4 separate regions of the Homo sapiens genome follow, and all the other regions are reported to be linked to region 1. Evidence: microRNA targets listed by miRTarBase, many of them from high-throughput screens and not tested one by one. Region 1 holds a microRNA gene; each other region holds the end of a gene's coding sequence.
Evidence for each region. The annotated mature microRNA hsa-miR-4746-3p reads AGCGGUGCUCCUGCGGGCCGA and lies in region 1 at 3,545-3,565, opposite strand. An mRNA with a match to its seed (bases 2 to 7 or 8) in the 3' UTR can be bound and repressed. Matches are read on the target gene's strand: a 7mer-m8 pairs with bases 2 to 8, a 7mer-A1 pairs with bases 2 to 7 and ends in A, and an 8mer does both.

Region 1 (7,340 bases):
GTGCTGTCCCGGGCGCTCTGATCCCAAGGAAGCTGTTGTCTTGGGGACATGCCCATCTGGCAGCTCTGCCTCTCTGCATCCACGTGCTCTGTCCCGCTCCCCACATCATCTCAGCAACTAAACCGGCAGACTGGGCCGGGTCCCAATTTTCAGTTGGCATGAGCCCCGGCTCAGTGTGTAGGTCATTGGTCCGTGTGACGCAGGGGGCTGCTGAGGGACCCTGCTGTGCAGTTGAGGGTGGGGGGTGGTGGGTGGAGCTCTGGGCTGCCTGGGCAGGTGGCCCGAATCCTGACACATGGCCCTGGGCTGCCCTTCTGTTCACCCGCCCTCGTCTGGGCAGCCCAGGGAGGTGCGGGTGGCAGCCCTGCTTCCCAGGCCATGGGTGGCTCTCTGGGTGTGGCCGTGTGTGATGGCTGTGCCGAGCGTGGATTTGTGCCCCAATCTTTTCCAGGTCTTAGGGTACGTACTGTTCTCAGCCTCTCCATGCTGGGACGCTGTTCGCAGTCAGCAGGGCTGGTTCTGGGAAACCCCCAGAGTTCCAGCTATGACTTCTCCCCTCCCCCGGTAACATAGGTGGATAGGTGGGACCTCGGGGAGGGGCAGGGGCTGGGGGTATCCGTCTTCCAGCTATTGAGTTTCAGACATTGAGGGTTGCAGACTCATTTGTGTCCTCTCTGCCACCTGCCATCCCTGTGACCCTGGACGATGGGCCTCTCGGTCTCTTTGTAAACATGAGGCCCGGGAGTGGTTCCAGAACGTCCATCATGGGGCTGCGAGAGCAGGAGGGATGGGGCGTCCATGGTGGCGGGAGGTTCTGTAAGTGGCGGTGGCCTTGATGGATCTCAGCACTGAGGTCGAGTTCTAAAGCCAGAGTGTGAGGCACAGTTCTGTCGCGTCACACTGGCTTCCAAGTCCCATGGATCTAGCCTTGAGAAGGCGGAAGGGGAGACTTGAGTTCTGCTGGGTCTTGGCTGCGTCGCCTCTGCCCTGGGGCGTGGGCAGGGCTGCGGTCTTGGAGGGTCTCTCTTTTCCTTTCTGTGATGAGCGCACAGCTGGGGCCGCTCCAAGCCGCTGTTCTGCCTTCCTTTTCCTGCCCCTGTTACCTGGGCAGCGGAGGGCCGTGCGGCCCGGGCTCTCAGTGAGTGGCTTTCCCTGCTTCCCTCCTCCCAGCACTTCTCCACCGACCCAGTGGCCGCCTCCATCATGAAGATCTACACGTTCAACAAAGACCAGGACCGGGTGAAGCTGGGTGTGGACACCATTGCCAAGTGAGCGTGTGGCCCCTTTGCCCTGCCTGGCCCCTCCAGCTCATCCCAGCACCCCTCCCACTGGGGCTGTCACCCCCTCTGGCCCCCTCATTACCTGCTGAGGTGGGTTGGGAAGGAGCATAGGCCGAGAGTGAGGCAGCTCCACCCAGAGGCCTCAGGCAAAGGGCTGGGCCTCCTTGGGCCTCAGTTTACCCGTGTGCAAAATGAAGGTGTTGAAGGAATCAGGGGTTTCCCACCCTGGCTTCCTTGGGGAACATGTGGAGGAGGCAGGGTCCCACCCCACTCCCCGGGTCTCAGGATCGGGGGCAGGCCTGGAGGTCCACGCTGCCCGCCAACGCCGAGGGAGCACCCCGCAGGAGCCCCCTGCTGGCACTGCGGCCCTTCAGCTCTGGCTCTCCACTCTTCCGGCACTGTGGCTTCCCCACCGCTGTGGTTAATTGTGCCCTTCCAGGGCTGGTGGGACGGTGAGGGGTTCCGTGGGGCTCCTGCTGGCACCAGGGGTGGGCTCCATGGGGTGTCCGAGGTGTGCCTTCCACCCGGAGATGGTCTGCTGCCCTCGCGTCACTGGGCCGCTTCTTCCCTCTGACTAGAGGCCAAGTGTGGCTGAGCTGCTGTTACCTGGAGCAGGAGGCACAGAGGGGCCGGGTGGGCAGCCTGGGCTGTGCCCCACTCACCTTCTCCACCTACCCCAGGTACCTGGACAACATCCACCTGCACCCCGAGGAGGAGAAGTACCGGAAGATCAAGCTGCAGAACAAGGTGTTTCAGGTGGGCGTGCCTTCTGGCCCCCGGGGCCCAGGCTGGGGGTGGGGGCAGCTGGCCTGCAGGAGCCGGTGGTGGCCCACACCAGGCGGTGGGCTCCCTGGAGGAGCTAGCGAGAGTTGAGCCACAAGCAGTGAAGGGTTCGGCCAGTAGAAGGTAGCAGGACAAGATGGAGAGCAAGACTTTTATGCACCGGTCACCCCAAATCAACAAATTCTGCCTCTCCTCACCTGCATCCTTTTCCTCCTCTTCAGCTGGGCTTGTTTGGGAACATGTCGACTCTGGGGAGGTTTCTCATGCAAACCAGATGTCTGGTTCTTCTGGGGGAAAGGGCAGGGACTGGGGTCCTGGGCGGTGTTAGCCTCGCATCAGGCCCCAGCAGTGTCTGGCTCCTCAGCCTCACTCTTCGTGCCTGGTTGTGACTCTTTCCTCTGTGCAGAGCTGTTGGAGACTCCACAGCCCCCACCGTAGAAAAGCAGGTTTGCATCCAGCACTGAGGCACCCCCAGGGCTGGGCCCCATCCAGGGGTCGACAGCTGCTCCCAATAGCGAGAGCCGGGCCCCTGGACTGGGTGGGGTGTGGCCAGGCCATGGAGGAAGCCAGGGGCCCCCAGTGACGCCCATCTCCACCCCCAGGAGCGCATTAACTGCCTGGAAGGGACCCACGAGTTTTTTGAGGCCATTGGGTTCCAGAAGGTGTTGCTTCCCGCCCAGGATCAGGGTAAGTGGACAGGGCCTGGCTGAGTAGGGAATGGGGACGAGGGGCCTCGGGGCAGGAGGGCCCGGCTTGGGGGTCTCTCCATTGCACAGTGACACCCATGTCCTGCCACGCTGTAGAGGACCCCGAGGAGTTCTACGTGCTGAGCGAGACCACCTTGGCCCAGCCCCAGAGCCTGGAGAGGCACAAGGAACAGCTGCTGGCTGCGGAGCCCGTGCGCGCCAAGCTGGACAGGCAGCGCCGCGTCTTCCAGCCCTCGCCCCTGGCCTCGCAGTTCGAACTGCCTGGGGACTTCTTCAACCTCACAGCAGAGGAGATCAAGCGGGAGCAGAGGCTCAGGTGGGCCTGACGTCCGCGGAGCAGAGTGGGGCGGGGCGGGGTGGAAGAACCCCGGCCAGCCCTCGTGACCTGGCCCGCGTGTGCAGGTCCGAGGCGGTGGAGCGGCTGAGCGTGCTGCGGACCAAGGCCATGCGGGAGAAGGAGGAGCAGCGGGGGCTGCGCAAGTACAACTACACGCTGCTGCGCGTGCGCCTCCCCGATGGCTGCCTCCTGCAGGGTGGGCACCAACGATGCCCGTGGAGGGCGGCTCGGGTTGGTAGGGGGCCCTGGGCCCCACCCGCTCTGACTCCCCCACTCCCCAGGCACTTTCTACGCTCGGGAGCGGCTGGGGGCGGTGTACGGGTTCGTCCGGGAGGCCCTGCAGAGCGACTGGCTGCCTTTTGAGCTGCTGGCCTCGGGAGGGCAGAAGCTGTCCGAGGACGAGAACCTGGCCTTGAACGAGTGCGGGCTGGTGAGTGTCGGCCCGCAGGAGCACCGCTGACCCGATGCCTCTGCAGGTTCTCCTGGGACCGGCACAGACACCCCCAGGAGGGAGCCTCCTTGTTCTCAGAGCAGGGGGCCTGGGCAGGTCCCTGGGTTTGAATCCTGCTTTCCCACTTACTGGCAGCAGGGCCTCGAGCAAGTTCATAACTACTCCACGCCTCAGTTTCCCCATCAAATGGGAGCGGTGACGTGCGTTAGCTAGTGCAGTAGGTTTAGGCTTAGGTCCTGGAGTCCCGGAGGGAGAGGGCAGGAGGCCTGGGTGCGAGCCACAGCCTCCACCAGCTGAGATGGCTTCCAGGCCGGGGCATCCCCGCGCCCAGGTTGCCCGCTGAGTTCCCTGCCGCGGCAAGGGCCGACTCTCGGTCTCAGAGTGACGGCCTACCCCTACCGCAGGTGCCCTCTGCCCTCCTGACCTTCTCGTGGGACATGGCTGTGCTGGAGGACATCAAGGCCGCGGGGGCCGAGCCGGACTCCATCCTGAAACCCGAGCTCCTGTCAGCCATCGAGAAGCTCTTGTGAAATAAAAGCAGGGTTGGCCTCAGCCCTGTGGGTCTGTCTCATGCTCTCCCTGTTCCTCTCCCCGCCACCCCAGGGCCTCCAAGCCACCTCTGGAAATACTTGGCTCTGCCCCATGGGCACGGGAGGGGCGCCAGCCGTGGAGCTGTGGAATTGGGCCCCGTGGCAGAGCCCCCATCCCTTGGGGGCTGTGGGGATGCGCCCAAGCCCCCGAGGGAGAGGCCTGGGGACACCAACAAATCTAAGCCCTCCCTAGCTGCTTGGTAACTGTGTCATGAAGCTGCCGGACAGACACACGTGGCATCTCCCTGGGCAGGAGAGCAGGCCTGCAGCATGGGTCCTGTTCCCGTGTGCCGTGGGTGGCAGTGGCTGCACCTGGCACTAGGGCTGCTCTGTGGATGTGGGTGACAACGGCAGGAGGGGATGCTGGCCTTCCTGCACATAGACCTGCAGTTAGTAAATCATAAGCCCAAATAAACAGGTTGTTTGAATATAGTTTCTTGGTTCTCCGTTGAAACCGTGGGACACAGGGCAGGCCCACCTGCTGAAGAGCGGATGGCTTGGGGGCTGGGTGTGGCTCCCTGTCAAGGTGGGACCATGTGGATACCTGTTCTCAGGCCAGCACCTGGCCACAAGTGCCCGATGAGCCACCCACCTGGGGAGGAAGTCCCGTGCGCTAGGGGAGGCTGTGCTGTGCCCACAAAGGCCCAGTCCCTGCAGGGGAGGCGAGTGCTGTCACAGGCCTGGCTTCCCTGTGGCCAGAGGGACAGGGTGTCCTGAGACGGCCACATCCTATTCCTGGAACCTGCAGATGCGCAACTTCACCTGGCAAGAGGGGCTTGGGTATGATGAAAGGTCTTGAGCTGGGAGATGATCCTGGGTGGTCCGGGACCCAGTGTCCTCACAAGAGGTGGCAGGAGGGTGAATCAGAGAGAGACTGGAAGAGGCTGCGCATGGCTGTGAAGGTGGAGGAAGGGACCCCGAGCTGAGGGATGCAGCGCCTCCGAGCACTGGGAAACTCTCCAGGAGGGCCTGGTCCTGCCCACAGCTTGATGTTAGCCTGGCGGGGCATGTGTGCACTCTGACCCCCAAGCTGTGAGATGGTGACTTGCTTTAAGCCACCAGGTTTGTGGTACAGCAGCCCCAGGAGACACAGGGACTCTGCCCTGCAGTGTGGAAGGCATGTGTGCCCCGGCCCCACTGCTGACTTGGGGATGCAGGTCTGCACCTGGGGGAGGTGCCCGGGGCCTATGCTCGTGCCCCTGACCTTGCATTGGTCCCTCCCTCGCCCCCGGCACTGCCCCAGCTGGTGTGGGCACCCGGCCTGTTGAGAATGGAGGCTGTCACTCCAGTCCTGCGTCCTGCAGGCCCCAGGACCTGATTCCGGGTTGTCGGGAGCCCCTGTAAAGCTCATCAAAGGTGTGGCACAGGGGCAGCCTCTGCTTCAGGCACAGCTGAATCCTGCTTCCCAGCAGGAAGGCCTGGCCCGGGCGCCCTGCCGTCCCTGACTGGGTGGATGGAGGTAGCTGACACTTTTCCCACATAGGGTTCCCTGAAGGGAAGCTTAGGACTTCAGGTGGGGTGTGGCTGGGAAGAGCAGGACTGGCGAGCGTGACCCTCCCCGTGGCTGCGTGTGCTCTGAGCTGCTCAGTACCACAGCGGCTGTCGCCTGTCCTCCCTCGGACAGTGTGGATAAAGCCCACTCAACCTGGGGCGGGGAGGAGGTCACCTTCTAGCTCCAGCACTCGCAAAAGATGCACCTGACCTGGGGTGGGCTCTCACAAAGCCTCAGACTCGAAGCCAAACTCGGCTCCCAGCAGCTCCGGGTTCAGGGAGGTGACCCTAGCAGGTCTCTGGGAACACCCTCTCCTAACCCCCCAACCCAGGGCAGGAGGGATCGCCGGACAGAAGCACGTGCGGAAAAACCCGCACCTTGACCCAGGTCAGCCTGGTATGAGGGTGACTTAGTGACAAACAGATGGGACGGTGCTGTTGCAGGGCACAAGGCTGGCCCCAGACACCAGGCACCACATGGGGCCGGGCCATGGGCAAGGTGCACTCTCAGAGAAACACAATGTTTTCGGAAAAGACAGACAGAGCAGCTCAGGGCTAGAGAATAAGTTTATACACTGCCTCGTTAGGTCCAGGGGCCCGCGCACGTGGCCAGGCGGGTGGTCCTGACGCTTCAATTCATTTACAAGTATTGGATTCCACGCCTGCTCCTGTGCCCGCAGGCTTCCCCAATAGGCCAGCAATCTCAATAATGCTTTATTAAAGGGCAGATTCATATGCGGCTCTTGGGGGAATTTTTACAAATATCAAAGGAACTAATCCAGCATCCTATATAGAACTCTGCACACTTTGGGGAGGTCCGTGAAGCAGGACAAAGTGCTCTTTACACAGGAATTGAGTCGGTTCAAGTATCTGCTCTGTGGGGAGGACACCCTAAGCATTCTACATACGTCACCCCTGCTCTCAGGATGCACCCAGTGGGCTCGCGGTCAGGGTGGCCTTGCCGGTGTCCACCCCCACACCACCCCCAGCTCCGGAAGCGGCTCCACACGGGGCTTGGACCTCTGCAGGGCAAGAGAGGGAGGGTCTTGAGCTGGCTGGGCCCTCTGGGCTCCCTGGGGGAAGACCCCACCCTGCTGCCTCATGGGGCCTGCAACAACCCCAGGGCGGGACCCTCCACCTGACAGTGGGGACAGGCAGAGGCTGGGGCGTTGTGCCTCTTCTAGAGGTGACCTGCTCACCTGCTCTCAGGTTGACCCTGCCTGCCCCCCACCACCCGGGCACACTCCTCCCACGCAGCCTGCTGCAGGGCCTCTGTACTTCCTCTTTGGCGAGTGCTCCAGAAATCCACCTGGCCCTCCCTTGCTGCCTCAGTGCAGCCTTCCCTGACCCCCATCTAACGTCACAACCACCTGAGACTCCCAGCATAGGCCCTTGTGGCTCTGCGGCCAGAACGATGCCTGGCATGGTCAGCACCCACGGCCCAGCCCGCCCGAGGATGTGGCAGGGCAGGAGCCACTTCCAGCTGCAAGCCCTCCTGGCTGCTCACAGTGGAGCTAGTCTTAGGCAGCCCCATCCCTTCTCTGTTGAGGTTTACCTCCAGCGCCCACCTCACCAGTGCGTTCTGCTATCTACAGCCCTTCTCACCCGCAGCATCCGGGACATCCACGATCATACAGTCGCCCTCCTCCTCTTCCTCCTCCTCCGTGTCTGCCTGGAAGCCGTCCATGTCTTCAGCACCAA
Region 2 (7,340 bases), not on the chromosome of region 1:
AGCAGTGTCAGATGTGTCCATCAATTAAGTTCCATAATACATAAGAATAAAATGGAAAGTACATTGTGAACTTCGATAGACATGTTCACAGAATAACTTGTTATTACTTGGTTTAAAAGTGCAATCCTAGTTCATTTGTTTATATATTTTCTAAAAGTTTTTATAGATCTCTGAATTAAAATACTTGTAATGATATTTCTGCTTTTATCTGTATTTTATGTTCCAAAACTTCACAAATTATACTGTTAACTAGGTTTGTATACCATAAAGACAAATGTTGAATAAATAGCTGTTCTTTCAATTTCTTTAAAAAAAAGATCCAAGATGGGCATTATATTCATTGTATGTTTACAAATTCTTACATTTTAGTTATTCTTCAGCAAAAAATCCAGATGGATGTTTTTTTCAGAAAGTGTTGAATGGGTTTACAAAGTTTTTTTGTAAGGAACAATATTGCAAATTACTAAAATTGTATTTTTATAGGCTGTTTGCTCTTTTGTGGATATTGTGCCTGTCAGGATTCTTGAAGGTAAGTTATGTTATAATGGTTAATTTGAAATATAATTCTGGCTGTGTCAATATAAATAACCTCAAAAAGCTATAAGAGATACTCTTATGATAGGACACTTAGTTATAATTATCCAGAACATTTGTATATAGAATGATTATAGAATTATCCCTTTAGAAAATCAGGGTCTTGTGTTGGTCCTTATTATTGACTGAAAAAAAGATGAATGAATAAATGAATTAAATTACATAGAAAGAGGCCCTTGCTTACAACTGCCAAGCTCCAGTGGCACATTTAATTGTGAAAAACGAAATATATTTTTAAATAATTTATATGTGGAATGCTGTTTTTCAAAGTGGGTAATTTAGTTTAATGGAATATAACCACTCATTCATCCTTCCATCCAACAGAGGCAAGTTTGGACTTGCCTTGCCTTTTTCTGCTTTTAACATTTGTATTCAAAGTTGTACACCATTGTCAAATGTATAATGTAGCAGTAAATCATTAGAGGAAGTAAGTTAAGTCCTGTTAATACTGTTCTCAAATATAAACATATTTCTTTAATCTCTTCCCTATAGTTTTTTTTTTATAGTGAGATAATGGAGTTGGTCTTAGCCGCTGCAGGAGCCCTTCTTTTCTGTGGATTCATCATCTATGACACACACTCACTGATGCATAAACTGTCACCTGAAGAGTACGTATTAGCTGCCATCAGCCTCTACTTGGATATCATCAATCTATTCCTGCACCTGTTACGGTTTCTGGAAGCAGTTAATAAAAAGTAATTAAAAGTATCTCAGCTCAACTGAAGAACAACAAAAAAAATTTAATGAGAAAAAAGGATTAAAGTAATTGGAAGCAGTATATAGAAACTGTTTCATTAAGTAATAAAGTTTGAAACAATGATTAAATACTGTTACAATCTTTATTTGTATCATATGTAATTTTGAGAGCTTTAAAATCTTACTATTCTTTATGATACCTCATTTCTAAATCCTTGATTTAGGATCTCAGTTAAGAGCTATCAAAATTCTATTAAAAATGCTTTTCTGGCTGGGCACAGTGGCTCACGCCTGTAATCCCACCACTTTGGGAGACCGAGGCAGGTGGATCACGAGGTCAAGAGGTTGAGACCATCCTGGCCAACATGGTGAAACCCCGTCTCTACTAAAAATACAAAAATTAGCTGGATGTGGTGGCACACACCTGTAGTCCCAGCTAGTCAAGAGGCTGAGGCCAGAGAATCGCTTGAACCTGGGAGGTGGAGGTTGCATTGAGCCAAGATCACGCCACTGCATTCCAGCCTGGTGACAGAGCGAGACTCAGTCTCAAAAAAAAAAAAAAAATTTTTCTTCCTAAATTAGCCACGCATAGCAGTTCGTTTGCAATTCAAAAATAATTTTATGAGTAGATAAGAATATCAGTTTACCGTTGTCTAGTGATTTTATCTAAATTTTCCCTGAATTATTAAGTAATATTGATTTGGCTTTGATTCTGAAGTAGTAGAGTCTTTACCATTATAAACTGTAAATCTCTTTTTGCTTAAAAGGAAAAAAATGTAAAAGATAAATTCCACAGAGAATTATTCAGTATTACATTAAAATGTTAATGACTTTTTATTTTAAATTGTACTAACATTAAAAGTTGGCCTGAAAGTCAGATATTATGACAAAATTTGACATTAATTGTTTTTAAAGTATAGATTTCATTTGAAATTATAGAATGGTAATGTGGTTAGAGGACACCAAAGATACTGGGTCATCAGCCATTAAGTATATCTATTTCAAAATTAAAATATTTGGGAAGTATTGTCTTATGGTTTCATTTGTGTTGGTCCACACAGCATGTTAGGTCAGTGTACCAGTAACCAATGAAATTTTGTCAAATTCCCTCACTGTACTAGTTTGTTAGGCTGCCATAACAAAGTTCTACAGCTTGGGTGGCTTCAACAAGAAATTTGTTTTCCCACAGTTCTGGAGGCTAAAAGTCCAAGATCAAGGTGTTAGCAGGGTTGGTTTCCTTTGAGGCCTTTCTCTTTGATTTGTAGATGGCCATCTTCTCCCTGTGTCTTTAAATGGCCTTCCCTCTGTACTTGTCTGTGCCCAAATTTCTTCTTCTTATGAGGACACCAGTCATACTGGATTAGGGCCCACACTGAGGACCTCATTTTTCCTTAATTATCTCTTTCAAAACCTATCTCCAAATACAGTCACATTCTGAAGTGCTGGGATTAGGATTTCTTCATGTGAATTTTGGGGGGACTACAACTCAGCCCATAACACCCCCTAAGTATTTCCCAGCTATTAAGTTGAAATAAACTTGTAGTATCAATTTAAGCTTGCATGATTTGTAGATGTAAATTTGACTTTATTATCATTAACTGTTGAATTATCAAGTGTATGATGCAGTGCAATCAAGTTTAACAGCATGGTGGGTAAGAGCATCTAGATTAGAATCATTGCAGTCCAACCAGGTGCTTAAGTGACATTTGGCGAATTATTTATCCTTCCTTAGGTCTTCTGCCTCATCTTCATAATGGGAATAATGATGTCTAGCTTATTGGGCTGTTATAAGGATTAAATGAGATAGATAAATAAACTAAACTAAGTGCTTAATTAATGTCAGCTGATGGTATTAATACCATTTTCTTTTTTTTTTTTTTTTTTTTTTTTTAATTTATTTTTTTATTGATAATTCTTGGTTGTTTCTCACAGAGGGGGATTTGGCAGGGTCATGGGACAATAGTGGAGGGAAGGTCAGCAGATAAACAAGTGAACAAAGGTCTCTGGTTTTCCTAGGCAGAGGACCCTGCAGCCTTCCGCAGTGTTTGTGTCCCTGATTACTTGAGATTAGGGATTGGTGATGACTCTTAACGAGCATGCTGCCTTCAAGCATCTGTTTAACAAAGCACATCTTGCACCGCCCTTAATCCATTTAACCCTGAGTGGACACAGCACATGTTTCAGAGAGCACAGGGTTGGGGGTAAGGTCACAGATCAACAGGATCCCAAGGCAGAAGAATTTTTCTTAGTGCAGAACAAAATGAAAAGTCTCCCATGTCTACTTCTTTCTACACAGACACAGCAACCATCCGATTTCTCAATCTTTTCCCCACCTTTCCCCCTTTTCTATTCCACAAAACCGCCATTGTCATCATGGCCCGTTCTCAATGAGCTGTTGGGCACACCTCCCAGACGGGGTGGTGGCTGGGCAGAGGGGCTCCTCACTTCCCAGTAGGGGCGGCCGGGCAGAGGCGCCCCTCACCTCCCGGACGGGGCAGCTGGCCGGGCGGGGGGGCTGACCCCCCCCCACCTCCCTCCCAGACGGGGCAGCTGGCCGGGCAGAGGGGCTCCTCACTTCCCAGTAGGGGCGGCCGGGCAGAGGTGCCCCTCACCTCCCGGACGGGGCAGCTGGCCGGGCAGGGGGCTGACCCCCCCACCTCCCTCCCAGACTGGGCGGCTGGCCGGGCAAAGGGGCTCCTCACTTCCCAGTAGGGGCGGCCGGGCAGAGGCGCCCCTCACCTCCCAGACGGGGCAGCTGGCCGGGCGGAGGGCTGACCCCCCCACCTCCCTCCTGGACAGGGCGGCTGGCTGGGCAGGGGGCTGACCCCCCCACCTCCCTCCCGGACGGGGCGGCTGGCCGGGCAGAGGGGCTCCTCACTTCCCAGTAGGGGCGGCCGGGCAGAGGCGCCCCTCACCTCCCAGACGGGGCGGCTGGCCGGGCGGAGGGCTGACCCCCCCACCTCCCTCCCGGACAGGGCAGCTGGCCAGGCTGAGGGGCTCCTCACTTCCCAGTAGGGGTGGCCGGGCAGAGGCGCCCCTCACCTCCCGGACGGGGCGGCTGGCCGGGCGGGGGGCTGACCCCCGACCTCCCTCCCGGATGGGGCGGCTGGCCGGGCAGGGGCTGACCCCCCCACCTCCCTCCCGGACGGGGTGGCTGCCGGGCAGAGACGCTCCTCACTTCCCAGATGGGGTGGCTGCCGGGCGGAGAGGCTCCTCACTTCTCAGACGGGGCAGCTGCCGGGCGGAGGGGCTCCTCACTTCTCAGACGGGGTGGTTGCCAGGCAGAGGGTCTCCTCACTTCTCACACGGGGCGGCCGGGCAGAGACGCTCCTCACCTCCCAGACGGGGTCTCGGCCGGGCAGAGGCACTCCTCACATCCCAGATGGGGCGGCGGGGCAGAGGCGCTCCCCACATCTCAGACGATGGGCGGCCGGGCAGAGACGCTCCTCACTTCCTAGATGTGATGGCGGCTGGGAAGAGGCGCTCCTCACTTCCTAGATGGGATGGCGGCCGGGCGCAGACGCTCCTCACTTTCCAGACTGGGCAGCCAGGCAGAGAGGCTCCTCACATCCCAGACGATGGGCAGCCAGGCAGAGACGCTCCTCACTTCCCAGACGGGGTGGCGGCCGGGCAGAGGCTGCAATCTCGGCACCGTGGGAGGCCAAGGCAGGCGGCTGGGAGGTGTAGGCCGTAGCGAGCCGAGATCACGCCACTGCACTCCAGTCTGGGCACCATTGAGCACTGAGTGAACGAGACTCCGTCTGCAATCCTGGCACCTCGGGAGGCCAAGGCTGGCGGATCACTCGCGGTCAGGGGCTGGAGACCGGCCCGGCCAACACAGCGAAACCCCGTCTCCACCAAGACCAGTCAGGTGTGGCGGCGCGTGCCTGCAATCGCAGGCACTCGGCAGGCTGAGGCAGGAGAATCAGGCAGGGAGGTTGCAGTGAGCCGAGATGGCAGCAGTACAGTCCAGCTTCGGCTCCGCATGAGAGGGAGACCGTGGGGAGAGTGAGAGGGAGAGGGAGAGGGAGAGGGAGAGGGAGACGGAGAGGGAGAGGGAGAGGGAGAGGCCCCCTTACATTTTTGCACGCTATTAATACCATTTTCAGTTCAAAGGTGGAATGGACTGATTGTGACTAAAGATTCTGTATAAGCAAAAGTAGATCTGACATTTTTAAAATGTAAAACAATGCCATTCTTTTCACTAAATTATTTTTTATTTAGAAAATATAGTTATTTTCCATAAAAATGTTAACATGTAGTAAGTTTATCCTTTCTAAATGACTTAAATTTTCCAAAAAAAATTGTTTTAATTTCTGATAAGATCAATATAATAAGCGTGTAAAGGAATCCCAAGACCAAGAAGTTTGAAAACCTTTGGTACAAAATATTACATTTTATAAATCAACCATTGGTTTATTCCTGTGTTCTGTCAATGAATTTTATGTGGTATGTAAGTCCGTGTATGTGTCCCACTGTGTATAAGTATGAGTTCTTCTAGGTAGGGAATATACCTCGACCATTTTAAAGCATTGCATTAAGTAAAGGTGAAAATACACAGACTTCAGAAATATTAATAGAAAGTGGAATTAGGGCTGGGCATGGTGGCTCATACCTGTAATCCCAGCACTTTGGGAGACCGAGGCGGGCAGATCACCTGAGGTTGGGAGTTCGAGATCAGCCTGGCTAACACGGTGAAACCCCGTCTCTACTAAATATACAAAATTAGCTGGGCGTGTTGGCGCACGCCTGTAATCCCAGCTACTCAGGAGGCTGAGCCAGAAGAATCACTTGAATCCAGGAGGCAGAGGTTGCAGTGAGCCAGGATCGTGCCACTGCACTCCAGCCTGGTGACGAAGTGAGACTCCGTCTCAAAAAAAAAAAGAACATGGAATTAGCAGGACTTGGACAGAGCAACAGGCAACTCAGTGTGCAAGGGCCATAGGAAGAACAGCTAAGAGGTAGGAGGAAAATGAGGAAAGAGCAATATCTGAGAACTTCTGTATTTCTTGAACGTAATTTGGGAAAAGAGATGCAGTAGGCCGTATACACCTGCCTTGATTTCTTCTCAGACCTAGCTTCAGTCTACTTGATGCATTTCCAGGGATTAGTGGTCAACAGCCTGCAGCTGCAGGCCTTTTTTTTGGAGCAGCTAAGGACTTAGATACTTTTTGCTTTTTCCTTTCATTTTTCTAGAGCTTTGTCTTGAAGTCCCCATTATCTAGGGAATGGGCAACATGGGGTCACTATCTGAATCCCAGAAGTCTTCCTGTTCCTTACTGATTGTGCAGATCAGGGATTCCATGGGAGAGGCCTGACTGCAGGGGCCCCACTGACTGTTCTGCATCATGTAGCATGCCTTTTGGATGAGAAAATCAGTCTGCTTCCTGTAAGGTATTCAGGGCCACCCACTGTGCCTCTAGTTCTATATATAGGCTCCTTCCAGCTCTGTGATGAGCCACTGCAATGTTTAGTTGGACCCTTAAGCCTTGTTTGTCCATTAGGAGATAAAGTTTCCCAAAAACAGTAGTTTAGTTTCCTTCATCTTTGCAAATTCAGCATAGTGCCTATAATAGAGTGCATATTCAAAGGCATGAATGAAGGAATGAATTAGACTTTTAAATATACTAAGGCCACTTTTCTAGAACTGCTTTTATATAACTGGTGAGGGGACATAAGTAAAAAGGAGTAAAAGGGTGTTTTACTCAGCTGTTTAAAGCACTTGTAATGCTAAATCATGGCATGGTATTTTAACAACATGACATTTTCATAATAGGTAAATTATTTTTTCTGGTGCCAAGTGCCTATTCAAAAGTCTTGTCCTGGTATGTTAAACAAGATACAGTAAATATGGACTATCAGAATATAAGTTTTCTCTAAAATGCAATGTGCACTTATATTTTTGGGTGAGGTAGCTAACTTCTCATTTGAAAGATGAGGTACAGTATATGGTTAACTTGTAAAACAGAAATTCACTTGCTTTATAAGAACGAAATCTCATTTAAATAAACCAGGTTTCTTAGGCATGCTTCCTTTTTTTATATCAAATG
Region 3 (7,340 bases), not on the chromosome of region 1:
CCGGGCCTGGGGCGCTGGGGCCGGCGCTGGGGCCGCCCGACTACGACGAGGACGACGACGACGACAGCGACGAGCCGGGGTCCCGGGGCCGCTACCTGGGGAGCGCGCTGGAATTGCGCGCGCTGGAGCTGTGCGCGGGCCCCGCCGAGGCCGGGCTGCTGGAGGAGCGCTTCGCCGAGCTGAGCCCGTTCGCGGGTCGTGCCGCCGCCGTGCTGCTGGGCTGCGCGCCCGCCGCCGCCGCCGCCGCCACCACCACCAGCGAGGCGACGCCGCGCGAGGAGCGGGCCCCGGCGTGGGCGGCCGAGCCCCGGCTGCACGCGGCCTCCGGGGCGGCGGCCGCCCGGCTGCTGAAGCCCGAGCTGCAGGTGTGCGTGTTCTGCCGGAACAACAAGGAGGCGATGGCGCTCTACACCACCCATATCCTCAAGGGCCCCGACGGGCGAGTGCTGTGTCCCGTGCTGCGCCGCTACACGTGTCCCCTGTGCGGCGCCAGCGGCGACAACGCGCACACCATCAAGTACTGCCCGCTCTCCAAAGTGCCGCCGCCGCCCGCCCGCCCGCCGCCCCGCAGCGCCAGGGACGGCCCGCCTGGCAAGAAGCTGCGCTGAAGGCCCGGGCTCCCGGCCGCCCAGGGTCGCCGCCGCCCCTCGCACCGCTAGGTCTGCGCACCATCTCGCCCCCGCCGTGGGGAGGCGTGCGGCTCAGCGGTCGGCTCGACATGGGACGTCGTCCTGGTGGTTTTTGAAAAGCAGCCGACCGTGTGGAGTACTTCCGTGCTGAACGATTGGGACTAGACGCTGAAATCCCCATTTGTCTTCAGTTTCTAGTTTGCACATCCAGAACGGCGAAGGCTGGGTGTGTATTCCACTAACTGAAATATGGCAACTTAGAGGCGCTGTTTATTTACTGTATACGTCGACCTATTTTAGATGCGCATCAGTATGAAATTGTCTCAATCTTGGATGTTTCATTTTATGAATGGAGGCACTTTACTAGGTCTAGAATATTTTTTTAAAAGCCTCTGAACTGAGCTTAAAACTGGCGATTTTATGAAATGTCGGCAAAATGACTATTTTATTGTTTGAAGCGAGTTAATATTCTCAGTTGTCTTTAAAAATCAGTTACTCTAATTCCAGGTGAAGCAAGCCGCTGGTAGCATCACCCTTATGAGAAGTGAAGGTTTTGTAAACTTTCCAGTATTAATTTGGGCGGGTATTCCCCGCTTGTGGCTTGTTTCTGTCCTAGCTGGAGGTGTAAAATGCACAATGTGTAGCAGGTAGAATACAGCTCCTTATCGTTCTATGTACCAGGTATTTTATTACTGAACTAGCAACTAGCCTTTTCCACCTTTAAAAGTTGTGCCAAGTCATAATCATATTGTGTATAACTTGGAAATGGTGCTGTTTAAAAAAATTGTGTATTTATACAGTAACAGTATGAATTCATTAATCTCACCTGTAACTTTCCTACTTGGCATTTTCTCTACACACTCACCCTCTTCCAGTTCTTTAAAAACGTTTATGATATTAAGATCAAAGGGAGGAAGGGAAGACAGCAGTATTAATTCACCCTAGATTACTCAATTTCAGGGTTCCTAGTGGAGGAAAGCCCATTCCAGCTGTTGCCTGTCAAACAAATAGAAGATGGATCTCTAGCTCTGAGCTATTCGTGTATTAACTCGTATTCAAGAAGGTTCCACCGTGGGCTGCGTCTGACTTTAATACAGGCAGTGCTCAAACTAGAATAAGCACTAATTAAAGGAATTGTTGGGGGTCCTTCATGTGTTCCCACTCCTACTGGAAGACCCATGTCGGTTTCCGGAACCCCACCAGTTTACCCATAAGCAAGACTAAACCTGATCCTTGGGCAAAAGTTCCTAACCCCTACTTTACCCTCCCACCCTCACTTTTAAATCCACCATACTGAATGCCACACTATGGAATGCAGCTACCTGCCAAGCAAGGCAATAGAAGGCAAAAAATGGAAGTGAATTAAGATGAACTCATCTGAAATACACAAATGCATTACTATCTGAAGATACCAGCAAGAGTTTAGTCTACGTGTATAAGGCTCCCAGTAGGATTTAGCTAGGCTACTAGAAGTTAGACTGCTTTCGCATTAAACAGCTAACTTCATCCACAGCAAATTGACTCAATCAGGAACCTTCATTTGAAGGTGTGTTAGAGGATGGGGTAAATACCCGATAGCTGTCTTTTTGGTGAAAGAAAAGGTGCATTTCAAGAACTTGGGGGGCAGGAGGAAAGCACAATGTTTCTTAGCCAGGAAAGACAAATAATCCAACGCTGCTAGTCTTAACCCCAGACCAGAGAGAACTGCAGATCTGACTGGGCCTAAATTAAGTAGCTTAATGAAACCATGTAATTACTTGTTCTCCTTTCTTTTGCTATAGAAAATCTACCAGTTTAAATGAGCTTCACCTTCTGGGTGAAGTTTCTAAGGTCAACATGAATCCTCTTACCTCTCTCACTGCTCGTGTTCTGCCTTTTCAAAAGGACCACTATGAACAGATCAGCGCATTCTCTAGGCCAAAAGGGCTAGCCAGGTGGCAAGATCAATTTAGCTACTTTGTATTTTCAGAGTCAAATTACAGACGGTTTCCAAAGGTCTTGAGCATGGGGCTTTGGCATAGCCTCAATATATGGGAGTCACTGTGATGAGATGTGCCTAATGTTAATTTGATATTCTGACATTGCTATTTTACCAGAACTAAGAACATATTGAGCTGGAGCTTCTTGAGGGCAGGAGAGTATTGGAAAAGGAATCCAGAAGACCCTCTCCACTACTCAGGCAGCCACTATTCATCTATTTTTAAAGTACCCCATTTTCAGGCCGGGTGTGGTGGCTCATGCCTGTAATCCCAGCACTTTGGGAGGCGAGGCGGGGGTGGATCACAAGGTCAGGAGACCAGCCTGGCCAACATGGCGAAGCCCCGTCTCTACTAAAAATACAAAAATTAGCCGGGTGGTGTGGTGGGCGCCTGTAATCCCAGCTCCTCAGGAGGCTGAGGCAGGAGAATTGCTTGAAACCAGGAGGCGGAGGTTGCAGTGAGCCCAGATCACGCCACTGCACTCCAGCCTGAGCAACAGAGCGACTCTGTCTCCAAAAAAGAAAAAAAGTACCCCATGTTCAGCCCCTGTGCCAAATTTGCCTAGGTTTTCCAGCTGACAATGAATACTGGGAGTTAAAACGCAGAGTATTACTATAGTTAATTTTCTAGGGTTCTCTTATGAAAAGTATATGTAAACACATTCATTTAAAAATCCTTGGAACTCAATGTGGAACTTTAAACATTTTGCAAAATTACATTTAGAGAAACCCAATTTTTCAAAGTTTAAGAAATATACAAAGTATGACAAAATTATCTTCATAAGAACATGCTGCATACTTGCCTAGTAGCAAAACAATACAGGGAAGAGTCAAAAGGGCTTCTCCAACTGTAGAGGTACAGATTGTCTTAACCTGTTCTTTTCTGTACAGACTTAAAATTTCTAGTGGCTTTTATTTTTCTTTGTATTTTAATTTTCCTACAAAGTCCTTTTTGGAAGTTGCAGAATTATTAGCTTTGATGAGAACAACTTTTGTCATAGATTTGATTTATTAAACCAAAATTATACATATTAAAATTATATCACAAATATATATGCTTCCAGACAAAGAAAAGTTTGTTAGTCCTGATTTTCTAATCGTAGCCACTCAAGGAACAGTCCTTTCATAGTACCCCAAGTATTTCAATTAGACTTATAAAAGTATAAGTCAATCTATGGTCAGTGTCTTTGGTTAAAAAAAAAAAAAAACACAGGCAGTTCTTTACATAAAAACGTCCCACACGTTATAGATGCCAGCCACCTCCTGGTAGTCACTATGGACAACTAATGAGATGCAAAGTCTTTTGGACCGATGATGTCTCTACTACTGGATCTATCTGTATTAACAGCAATGTTACTCTCAATGAAACTGCAGAAGCCACCATGAACATGGAAGACCACCTAGCAGATCGGTGAGTAGGCTGCTTGTTCAGCTTTCCTTTAACACCTGTTGGTAAATACTAATGGGAGTAGACAGAGTTGTATGGCCTGGACAGTGGAAACCAAGAGCAGGATCGCAAAGTAACAGCATCAGACTCTTCTGCCCTCCTCTTGCACTTGGGTTCTGACTCCCAGAACAAAGAACTTGGGAGAACAGTACGGGAGACTGAGCAGAAAGGATGGGTTTGCTGACTCGCCTTGAAATCTAACTCTAACGTAGGCAGCAGTAACTCGTCTGAACAAATCTGATTAAATAAATTCTTGGGGCTTACCTGTGATGTCACACATACAGATCTACTCTCCAGGAAGCAAACTCTTAGCAAGTTACTGCCCCACTTGTAATCACTGATCTGAAATTCTCTTGTTATGAAAGAAAAGTCCTTCTCCCCACGAAAGACCTTTAAAGACTTCTACGTATTTGAAATACCAGATACTAAGGTGTTTAAAATGATTTCTATCATTGGTAACATCAAACAAAAATAGCTGCATCTGGTTAAGTTAAAAAGCATCAATACTCCCTCTTCTGGCCCTACAGCTGTACCAATAGGAATTCTCACCACTACTCAATAACAGAAATAAGTGCCTACAGCCATGATGAATTTGTAACATTTTCTCAAATTAACTACGATTTTTCTAATTTCAGGTGAAAACCCAAGGTGGTACTTCAAACACGCACATGCACACACAAACTCAGAGGACAGCGTTACAAGGAAACTAAGGAATTCCTGCATTAACAAAGGAAGACATGTTAGGGGGACATCCTAGCCACATATGCTTTCTTTGTTATATTTAGGTTCATTTTCATTGATACTAAACACAGACATTTAATGGCACTGATAAAAATTCAAGTAAAAAAAACTCAACTGAATATGCAAACTTACCATTATAAACAAAATACTATAACCACAAATCAACACTAAAACAAATTCTGTAAGTATTTTATTTATCACTGAAGAAAAAACACAGCAGCAAGTTCTGTGTTGGCTTCAATGAGACCAAATAGTTCATCTTTAACATAGCTACTGCGCTCCAAAATTGAAGTCAACACAGTCATTACTACAAATTACTTGTTGAAAGAATCTATCTTCAAAAGAAAGAAAATTAGGAAAGAGAATTTAAACGATTCCTCCAAACCATACATTTATAAATATTGTCATATTTAAAATGCTTGAAAGGCATGAATTCTCCATTAATGGAAAAGCAGTTTGCTATTGGCAACAGAAAAAAACTCAGCGATAATTTACCAAATGCTTTAAAATTTAAAAGCTATACTGTTTGGATTCACACTTGCGCAGTAATCTTGTCATTACAACAACTGCAAATTGCTTTGTACTCACCTTCTCTCAAGTAAAATCTAAAGAAAACCCCACCGTATCCAATGTTTGTAATGTTTACTTCAAGTGAATCTAAAAAATTTCTAAATTTAGTTTATGGTAAATACCTCAAAATACCTAAAATAGGTACGTATCAACCACTTAAGGGTGTGAAAATTGTTTCAGATTCACTGCTTTAAAGGGTCTTCAAATATATTTTAACAGAACCTTACTTCATTCCAAATTATTATCAGATATTTCAAAATCAAAAAAAAAGTATCAGTTCTATACCAAGATAAAGGTGTTACTCAATACCTGAAGGGTCACATTTTAAATTTATTTTTTAGTTTTTCTTTTTTGTCAACAAATGATTGATGAAATAATGCAACACCCTTAAATTCCAGAAAATGGCATGGTTTTTCCAACCTCCTGTGGATATGGTGCATGATCAATCTATTATATAGGATTAATACAAGTTCATGCTTTTTGTGTTATGGTGAAACAACATTAAAGAATCCAATTTAGATTGGTTGAAGCACAAGTATAATAATCCTTGAATGTGATCAAACCTATTTAAGACACCAGTTTAAATCCATTATCTTGAGACTTAACGTCGTACTGTGGTCCATCCATCTTCATCAGTCTCATTTTTAGTACGACGGAGAGATTCCCTATCTTTCTCAGCTCTCCATGAGGCCTTCTCTTTTTCACCTTCTCTTTCTCGGTCTCGGTCTCTTTCTCGGTCTCTTGAAAGAGCTGGGGGAGGAACTCGACGAGGAGGGTCCCGCTCTTCCACCCGGTCATCTTTCCTGTCATCAGCACGTCTCCAAGAACTTACTAAAAAGTTTAATTAAAAAAAAAAAATTAAGTTAGTACTATATTCTATTGGCTCAAATTACTCAAAATTCCTGTACTAAAGATTGTTAAATACAGAAATCATTGTTAAATACAGAAATTCTGTTAAATTCTGTATTGTTAAATACAGAAATCATAATGAAAGCTCATACAATTTCTGACAATCTTTAACATACAAATGTACAGATAAAACTCAAAATCTGAAAACAGGCAGAAACCACTAGCCTGGGAAGGACTACAGTTAGTATAAACCCGTAAGACAAGGTGGCAAAAATCTGGCTGAATGAAAATTTTATAACTGAAAGGATTTTTGGCTCTTGAAGAATTTTAACAGCAAATTAACCATACAAAATACAGGAGTTTTTAAAGTTATGGCTATGAGAGAAAAATTCTCTCATAACAGGATGTCAAGACATATGGAAAATTAATTTTTAAAAACCAAGAGAAAAATGAGGATTTTAAAAATGAAAAATACATATATTTTAAAACAGAATAAACTTCTGTTACAATTTCAGAGAAAATGTTTCTACTTTGTGCTTAATCTGCCAGGAAGCTGCTTTTAAATAACAATTTTTTTCATTTTTATTAAGTAAACTTTATATATATTGCCTGCTATCCAATTTAGTCTACTACTGTACTTTGAATTTAGAGATAAGTGCACTTTACAACATGACCATTGAGTAACTGTATGAAAATCATGAATTCTAAATAGAATATCAACTCTCTTATTGTTGGCCTTCATACAAATTTATGATATAATTAAATAACCCAAATCCCCCCCCCCCCAGAAACGACAGTTCTCCAATACTTCAGTTGTATGTAACCTCTATACCTTCTTCACGTTCTGATCTGAGTGGAGGTCCTCTTCGGTCCCTGTCGTCTCTTAGATCTCGTCTTTCTCTTAGATCACGCCGGTCATCCCTCTCACGGCGACGGTCATCCCTATCCCTATCGTCCCGGCGACTTGAGTCTCTCCAGCTTGAAGATTCCTCAGCTGGTCCTCTTCTCCAGCCACCTTCATCCCTGTAGCCATTTACAATGACAGGTCAGGTTCTTACTGTTAGACCAAATGGATAATTATAAGTACATCCAGTCCAAGCTGGGGCTTAGAGTTTACAAATATAAC
Region 4 (7,340 bases), not on the chromosome of region 1:
GACTGTCTACATGTCCTCCTCCCTGTGCTTAGGAAGAGAGACAAATAAGAGAATGAGAAGGCTGGGAAGGCCCTTAGCGGTCACATCAAGCAACTGTCCTTGCCAAGGTTTTATGGAGGAGGAAACTGAGGCCGCCTTGTGCTGAGTGGCTTACCCGTGAGCAGCCGGCACTCCATAGGGCCACAGCAGAGACTGTTTCTTCGTGGCACGGAAGGACATCTCTGCTTGCTGGTCCCACGGGCTAGGACAGCCCCTATTGACGTTGCACTATAGCTGCATGTGACCTTTAACCAATGGTAAAATAGCCGGATTTGTTTCCACCTCCTTCTGAGGTTCTGACCTGTAGTAGAGAAAAGAAATAGACAAGCGTGGGTGGGCCACATCCTGATCAGCTGCCAAAATGCGTGTGGCCCTTGTTACCCCTGTCCTGCCCACTTGGTGGACCATTGCAGGAAGTCTGAGCCCTCTGCCTTCCTTTCTCCTTGCAGGGCGAAGATGGCTTACCAGTCCAAGGCTGCTGGAACAAGGTAAGGCTTCCCATTGGTGTGCACTGGGGCTCCGTTCTCAGCAGTGCCATAAAGCTTCCACAATTTCCATTCTGCCTTGCTACAGATGAGGCAGCAAGACATAGGTCAAATAGTCACTGTCTCAAAGGCAGGGTGCCCATTAAACATCCCATACACTGCATGCTGTTAACAAACATTTTAAAATGCTTCTTAGAACATCAGTAAACCCTAGGCGGAATGTCCATGCAGCCACACAGGTGACATCTTTATGCTTTGTGTGTTCAATGTACATAGTGTCTTTCCCCCAAGGAACTTCCCCAAGGAGTTCCAGATCACACTCATAGAGTTCCTCTAAGGTCGTTTATGCCACGTGATGACATGTCTTAGACGTAGGACATCTCAGTTGCTTTCACTCTGAACTCACATGCTACTGTGCCTCCCCTAGGGGCTGTGCTCCTCACCACTCTACCACTCCCCTTGCATTTAAGCTGGCAGAGCTTCATGCCACCACACATGTGACCTGCAGCCAAATCTCTCCTGGGCTCCCAGAGTTCCTACCAACAATGAGTTTTCATTGATTCACACTGGCCTTGGCATTTGCCATTGTTAGAGCAGTCTGACATCATAGGACTGTGCCCTTGCATGTGATCGCCCCATTCAACCATGGCTCCCCAGAGCACAGGGCTGCCCAGGCAGACAGAGGCCATCTGCTTGCTAACTAATCCAGAAGACCCGCCTTGGTCCCCAGCAATGGTGGCAGCCACTATGCTGCCCCATACCGTCTCCCTCCACCTTGCCTGTCACTCCAAGTCTTCTCACCAACCCCCCACCACCATTGTCTCAAGGTTCATCCTCATAAAGGGACCGGAGACTCCAACATGTTCAAGAATCTGTGCTCAACGAATCCAGTCCTGTTCCAGTGGCAGCAGAGTCACACTTACAATGAGATGAACAAGCTCCCCTGTACTAAGATGCCAGAATCTCACTAGTGCACTGGGTTGGGTAAAAGTGGTGAAACCACCAAGACCCCAGGCCAACGCTGACCACCTACCTGCCTGGATACCTAAAGCACCCCCTAACCCAAGAAGGAAAAGCTCAACACTCAAGAGAGATGCCTCCCCAGAATCCATCCCTGGAGGCTGGCCTCGTCCTCCTGCCAAGCTCCACTTAGACCTAGTTAAAGCGCCACAAAAGCAGGTCAGAGGTGTCATAAGACCTCTGAACCCTTGACCCCTAAAAAAATTTCCTCTTTAAAGTTGCTGCCAATGGTTAGGAGACAGAAATGGTTGTGCTTAGCAGGGGAAGAACAGCCACTACCAAGAGCTGCAATGTCTTGGAGAAGCAACCAGAGAGCTTCAAGACTACTCATTCACACCTTAAGTCCAATCTGGGACAATGCAGTGGTTACAACAATCAGGCCTCCAAAGGCAGCAGAGAAAGAGAGTGCCCTCTAGTGACCACAAAGGGGATTCACAGAGAGGTGAACTTGGTTTCCTCCCTTCAGGGAGCTAAGGTCGCCACCAGTTTCTTTCACCTAGGGGCTCAGGGTTCCCACAGTTCTCCTGTCCAGAACTCCCATCCAACCCAGGACAAGATTTACCTCCCTTCCTACAAAGGAAATAAACCTCTGCAGACCCACTGAAACTAACAGAACATTGTTTTGTTTTTGTTTTGCAGTGATGCCTCTAACCTTGGATTGGCCTGTGTGTGTGTTTGTACATAGAATATTTATTTTTATACAGTTTTCACTTTTTGAAAATGCCAGAAGTATGATGCATCTTACAGATTATTAAAAAAGAAAGAAAAACCTGCATATTTTGTACAGAAAATATCAACCTCTTCCCTTTTGTTTACAAGATGTTTTGTATAAGCCTATGTCTCTAATACATTTTTTGTTTGGTCGTAATGTCTGCATGATATTTGTGCACATTTATTAAGTATCGAAGCTTAATAAATTATTGTGTCCTGGTGCCAAAGGGGGCCAGCCAGAACTGAGGTGCTGGCTAGCTCATGTGTGAATTCACATAAATGTAGAGGTCCATGATATTTGCTAAGCTAGGTGTGTCTAAGAGTATTTTAAACCCTTATGGATTTTCATTATTAAAGGAAATGAAACATGGCAATTCATGATCCTGATTAATCATTATATTAAATACATTCTCTCCTGTGAAAGCAGGAATTCCCAGAAGTAGGGGTCCTCAGAAGTGTGGAGTAAGGTTTTGAAATGTGAGGTTCAACAAAGGGAGGGAAGGGAACTTTATCGAGCAATGTATGTTGTTACAGATCCCAAGTTTATCACAGTGCTTGCTGTGTGAGCATTTAGGTTCAGTTGTGCTAAGGGCACCCAGGGTTTCAAAGGAGCCATTTGCTCTTGCTGTTGGGTTATGGTAGGTTTTTGCTTGTTTGTTTTGCTTTGTTTTGTTTTGAGCTACAGTCCCTAGTACCAGCTATTGCTAATCACAGCTGTTGACTTGATATGAGTTTGTGGGTTCACTCACAACTAGCAGTTGAAGGAGCTTTGCCTCATCTGCTGTTCCACTCCAGCAAAGAGCATTCAGAAACATGCCTAGATCTGGGCTTGGGCTGGGCCAATCTGAAGTTGTTTTTATTTTTTTAAGAAATAATGTTGTATTGCTTTCCATATTTAGTGCATTGCTTAGAAAAGGTCTCAGGAAACCGGTTTTAATGACCAGTTAAGTCTTACCTGTGGTGTAGCATACAGGTTTATCGTTAGCTGTTTGACAACATAAATTCATGCTTCTAAAAGCTTGAAAACAACAAATTACTCCAGTACTTTACATACATCCCCATCTGGTTTACATTTTGCATTTTCTTTACACATCCTTTCTTCCTAGACAACGCAAAGGGAAATTTAACTTCAGACTCTGTCCACATGCTGTCACACAAAACTCTAAATTAGTGGGCTTCACAGTCATTAGACCCCTGCCATGTGTGGGGATGAGGTCACACTCACAAGCGCTCATGGTAATGAAATCACACGCAGCTCAGACCCAAAACGTCTATACCAACATTCTTACTCTAAATGTCACTAGCTTAGCTTAGAACTTGGACAACTTCCTCTTCTAAGTCTTGGGTTCCTCATTTGAAAAGTGAAGCAAGTCTGGGCAACATAATGAGACGCTCATCTCTACAAAAACATTTTTCAAAATTTAGCTGAGTGTGGTGACACTCGCCTGTAGTCCCAGCTACTCCGGAGGCTGAGGTGGGAAGATTGCTTGAGCCCAGGAGTTTCAGGCTGCAGTGAGCTATGATCGCACCGCTGCACTCCAGCCTGGGCAACAGAGTGAGACCCTGCCTTAAAAGAAAAAAAAGGAAAAAAAAAAAAAAAAGGAAGGAAAGAAAAAAGAAAAGTGAAGCCATGCAGTAGTGAACAAGAGTTGATCTCTGTGGACACAAAGAGGGTTCATCTGAACCCAGGGATGTTTCTTGCCCTGGGCCGGATTCTCATGGCCCTGTAGCCCAGGGACAACTTCTCCAGCAGCCACGGAGTACTTTTAGAGGCCACAAAAATATCTTAATTTTTCACCTTTTTAAATTTAGAAAAAAAAAATGAATATATAACAATGAATCCAGCCAGGATTGTTTTTGTCTTTCTACCAGCACAATTGTAAAATATAATTTTTTGTATTTTTTTAATGGAGGAAGGCAAAACTGCCCAGGGCCCCCAAAAGTCATAACGCAGCCCAGCCCACATCCTCTGCCCCTTAGAATTCACAGTCACCCTAGCTGCGGGTGTCCCCACCTCCAGGCCACACTCCTCCCCTCCCAGGCGAGGGCCCAGGCAATCAGGGTGTGACCCCGTTCTGACCCCCTCCCCTTCAGGCTCTGGCCAGGGCAATCACAGCTCACTGATGATCTCAGGATAGAGTAGAACATTCACTGGAACCCAGAAAGGGGAGAGTCAGTGTTAGCTGAATATCCTGGGTAAATGGGCAAAGAAACCTCTTTTGTTCCAGTCCTGGGGTTATTCATTTACTTATGACACTTTACCTACTGCCACAAAGGATTCAAAGTCACAAGAATCTATGTAATAAAATAGAAATGTGTGTAAAGAGAAGTTTAAAAGTCAGAGTCAAGGAAAACAAGTAGAGAGGAGACAGCTGTGGCTGGGAAGCCCAGGGGATGGGGAAGGTCCTTGCCGTAACTGAGGCAGGGTCACACACATCACTTCAGGCCACCTAGTGGTCACAGAAAAAAAAAAGGCTGGGCCTGGTTTCGGAGCCCACACTGCCCTGCCCAGTGGGTTGCAGCCCCCCGAGGTTTAGCCCCGTGTGTGTAAACACATTGTCTCCCCACACGGTTGTTGCTGCCATAGTACTCAGCCAGGACCCCACCCTATCACTGGACTGCACCCCGGGCTCCTGACTTCAGGCCCCTGCCCCCAAGCCTCTCCACTTGAATCTTGGCTGTGTGTCAAATGCAGTACAGGGAGATGAGAAGTAAAAAGACACGTGGTCAAAGAGTTTGCACAGTAGCTGTGAGTCCATACTAACGCCCAGCAGACCAGGACAACCAGGCGAGAAGAAACAATCCAGTGATGGAACAGGAGAAGCAGGCACATTGCAGGAGGGACCAGGGAAAGGCCAGCCCTATGGACAGGGGCCACAGAGGGCTTGCAGAGGAGAAAGACATGCTGTCTGTTTTGGGGGACTTGCGGCACCTCCTGGTGAGAACTGCCTGCCCAGGGAGCCAGAGGTGCACCCAGCCCTGCCCACTGAGCATGTTGGTGAAAGTTCTTTGTAAATTGTAAGGCACTGGGTCTTAAGGCCGTTTGTCTCCTGCAGTTCCTCTCTCATTCCAGTGCCTGTGGCTGCGTGCTCTGGCACAGCAGGACACATGCCTAGCGTTGTCCACCTGGATACCTGCAAAGAATGAGCCAGTACCCCATGGGTGACAGTGTGACCGGGTCATCTGGGCCCGAATGGTGCCTCTCCCCAAGGCTGGGGAGTTGTGGTTGTGGTCATGTGAGCCAAGGGAAGCCACATTGCTTCCCTTGCTGAGGGAAGAGGAGGCTCCTTCCACACATGCCCACCCCGCCCCATCTCCGCCCCACCCAGTGCTGGCCTCCCTTCCCCGGCCCTGCCTTCGCCTGGCAGAATGGCATAGGATGGAGCTGGGGAGGGTTGTCGTTAACCCATAAGTGGAGGAGGGCACTGGCCAGCAAGTCGAGAGACTCAGCTTCTAGTTCTTTCTCTACCATTACCTCACTGTGTGGCTTGGGCACCTTACTCCAGGTCTTAGTTTCCCCAAGCGTCAAGTGAAGAAGCTGGACATGGGTGACCTCCATAAAACTTTCCAGCTCCGACACCCTGAGGCCCTCTGGCCCCACAGGCAGGTCACCTCCTGGGAGGATTGTGGAGGCGGGAGTACTCCATGTCCCCCCCTCCACCTAGAGTTATTTGGCTGTGACAGTATTATGCATGGCATTGGTTTTGCAAAACTGTGTGTGGCATGTGTGTGCTTTGTAACCCCAAATAACAAAACTTGGAGTAGGCCTGTGCCACCCAGGAGTAGGGTGAGCGGGGTCAGCTTGCCTTAGGGCAAGAACAGCTGTAGGGGTTGTTTCTCACATTGGTGTCGACACAGAGGATGTATCAGAGAGAAAGCAATAAAGCACTGGCCACCTGACACACGCGGGAATCCCCAAGCCCCAACACACATTCAGGGACACCGCACTGGCATGGGGAGGCCCACCTCCCTCCCTCCTCTCAGGCCCACTGTGTCTCTCCCATTCACCACCCCACACACTCCCCCAGCGTGTCTCTCCCCTTGCCCTGGACTTGGACACATTTTCAGCCAGCATGAGACATCAAGCACCCAAGACTCCACATCATTGCAAAAGAAAAGAGTAGGCTCCCTGTGAGTGTTCAGAAAAAAGGACACCACATCAAGATGTGGAGCAGAGAAGGAAAGCAAGGGCAGGAGCAGCCGTTCACCTCTCAAAGGAGCAGAACTCCCAAGGGGTCGCTGAAGCAGGATGCCCCTCACTGTGGTGAAGGAAACAGGAGGATGGTGCAGGGAAGGGAGCCATGTCTTAGCCACTCAGGCAGAACTGGGTGCAATCCACATGCAAAGTGACCTCTGGCTGCTAGAAAAGTTCATCTCTGAGAAACAGCCAAGCACCTGTGGAAGGCGACTCAGAGGGAGGTAGAGGGCCACGGCCCCTGTACCCCCAGGGCCCTCCCCAGCAGGCCCACCTCCTTTCCAGGCCTGCCACTCACCCTGCGCACACACTTTGCTGCCCCTCCACACGCTTGCCCTAGCCGGGCCCTTACCTGGAGATGCCATTGCTTCTTATCTGCCTCCTTTCAAGGCCCAGCTCAGATCCCATGGCCCTGGAGAGACGGTTCTGGGCTCCTCAGTTGGTGGAGTCTCTCCTCCCTGCAACTGCCTGGAACTCAGTGTTCTTTTCTTCCTCCACTTTATGTGAGAGTGTGCAAAGGGGCTCTTCCATTTTTGATAGTGAACTCTTAAAGGGCAGGGACTTTCTTACTCCCAGGCTCAGGAGGGACCTAGCTCAGTGTCTCCCCTACAATCCAGCCATCGACGGGGGATCATACATATCTACCACCTGCTGAGTTATCAGCCAGCTTTGTTAAGCACCTGCTGTGTGCAGACACTGTGCTTCCTGCCAGGCTGGGAAGGAAAGGGAAGAGGCCCCTAGGACTGTAAGACCCAGCTCCTCCAGGAGCTTCACCAGAGCACACCCAAGAGCACACCCATCCACCCTCCAGGAGCTTCACCAGAACCACCAGGAGCACACCCATCAGGGACAAGTGTGCTAAGTGCTAAGTGAGAGGTACAGCCAGCCAG

Region 2: miRTarBase lists TMBIM4 as a target of hsa-miR-4746-3p. The part of its 3' UTR that is shown has no 7-base or 8-base seed match.
Region 3: miRTarBase lists NANOS1 as a target of hsa-miR-4746-3p. Seed matches in the 3' UTR shown: 7mer-m8 at 650-656.
Region 4: miRTarBase lists COL13A1 as a target of hsa-miR-4746-3p. The part of its 3' UTR that is shown has no 7-base or 8-base seed match.

The regions. Positions count from the first base shown.
Region 1 is chr19:4,442,246-4,449,585 of GRCh38, reverse strand. MIR4746 (microRNA 4746) reads right to left here and starts at 3,608; the gene lies at 3,538-3,608. It overlaps UBXN6 (UBX domain protein 6), which reads left to right. Exons shown (of 11, transcript NM_025241.3): 5 at 1,171-1,268; 6 at 1,961-2,036; 7 at 2,666-2,750; 8 at 2,867-3,086; 9 at 3,173-3,303; 10 at 3,389-3,537; 11 at 3,963-4,580. The coding sequence ends at 4,088. CHAF1A (chromatin assembly factor 1 subunit A) reads right to left here. Exons shown (of 15, transcript NM_005483.3): 14 at 7,245-7,340; 15 at 6,189-6,661. The coding sequence ends at 6,561. RefSeq lists silencers at 5,042-5,210, 5,320-5,614.
Region 2 is chr12:66,131,913-66,139,252 of GRCh38, reverse strand. It overlaps TMBIM4 (transmembrane BAX inhibitor motif containing 4), which reads left to right. Exons shown (of 7, transcript NM_016056.4): 6 at 484-529; 7 at 1,087-3,407. The coding sequence ends at 1,293. It overlaps LLPH-DT (LLPH divergent transcript), which reads right to left. Exons shown (of 2, transcript NR_125724.1): 2 at 4,804-5,201. Among named protein-coding and RNA genes, the nearest start is that of LLPH-DT, 4.8 kb to the right of the region's middle.
Region 3 is chr10:119,030,073-119,037,412 of GRCh38, forward strand. It overlaps NANOS1 (nanos C2HC-type zinc finger 1), which reads left to right. Exons shown (of 1, transcript NM_199461.4): 1 at 1-3,658. The coding sequence ends at 608. It overlaps EIF3A (eukaryotic translation initiation factor 3 subunit A), which reads right to left. Exons shown (of 22, transcript NM_003750.4): 21 at 7,047-7,237; 22 at 3,598-6,196. The coding sequence ends at 5,967. Among named protein-coding and RNA genes, the nearest start is that of NANOS1, 4.0 kb to the left of the region's middle. RefSeq lists silencers at 1-43, 414-713.
Region 4 is chr10:69,956,516-69,963,855 of GRCh38, forward strand. It overlaps COL13A1 (collagen type XIII alpha 1 chain), which reads left to right. Exons shown (of 41, transcript NM_001368882.1): 40 at 489-527; 41 at 2,184-2,629. The coding sequence ends at 2,186. It overlaps LOC107984242 (a long non-coding RNA gene), which reads right to left. Exons shown (of 4, transcript XR_007062181.1): 2 at 6,803-6,908; 3 at 155-340. Among named protein-coding and RNA genes, the nearest start is that of LINC02636, 49 kb to the right of the region's middle. RefSeq lists a silencer at 304-373 and an enhancer at 4,823-5,323.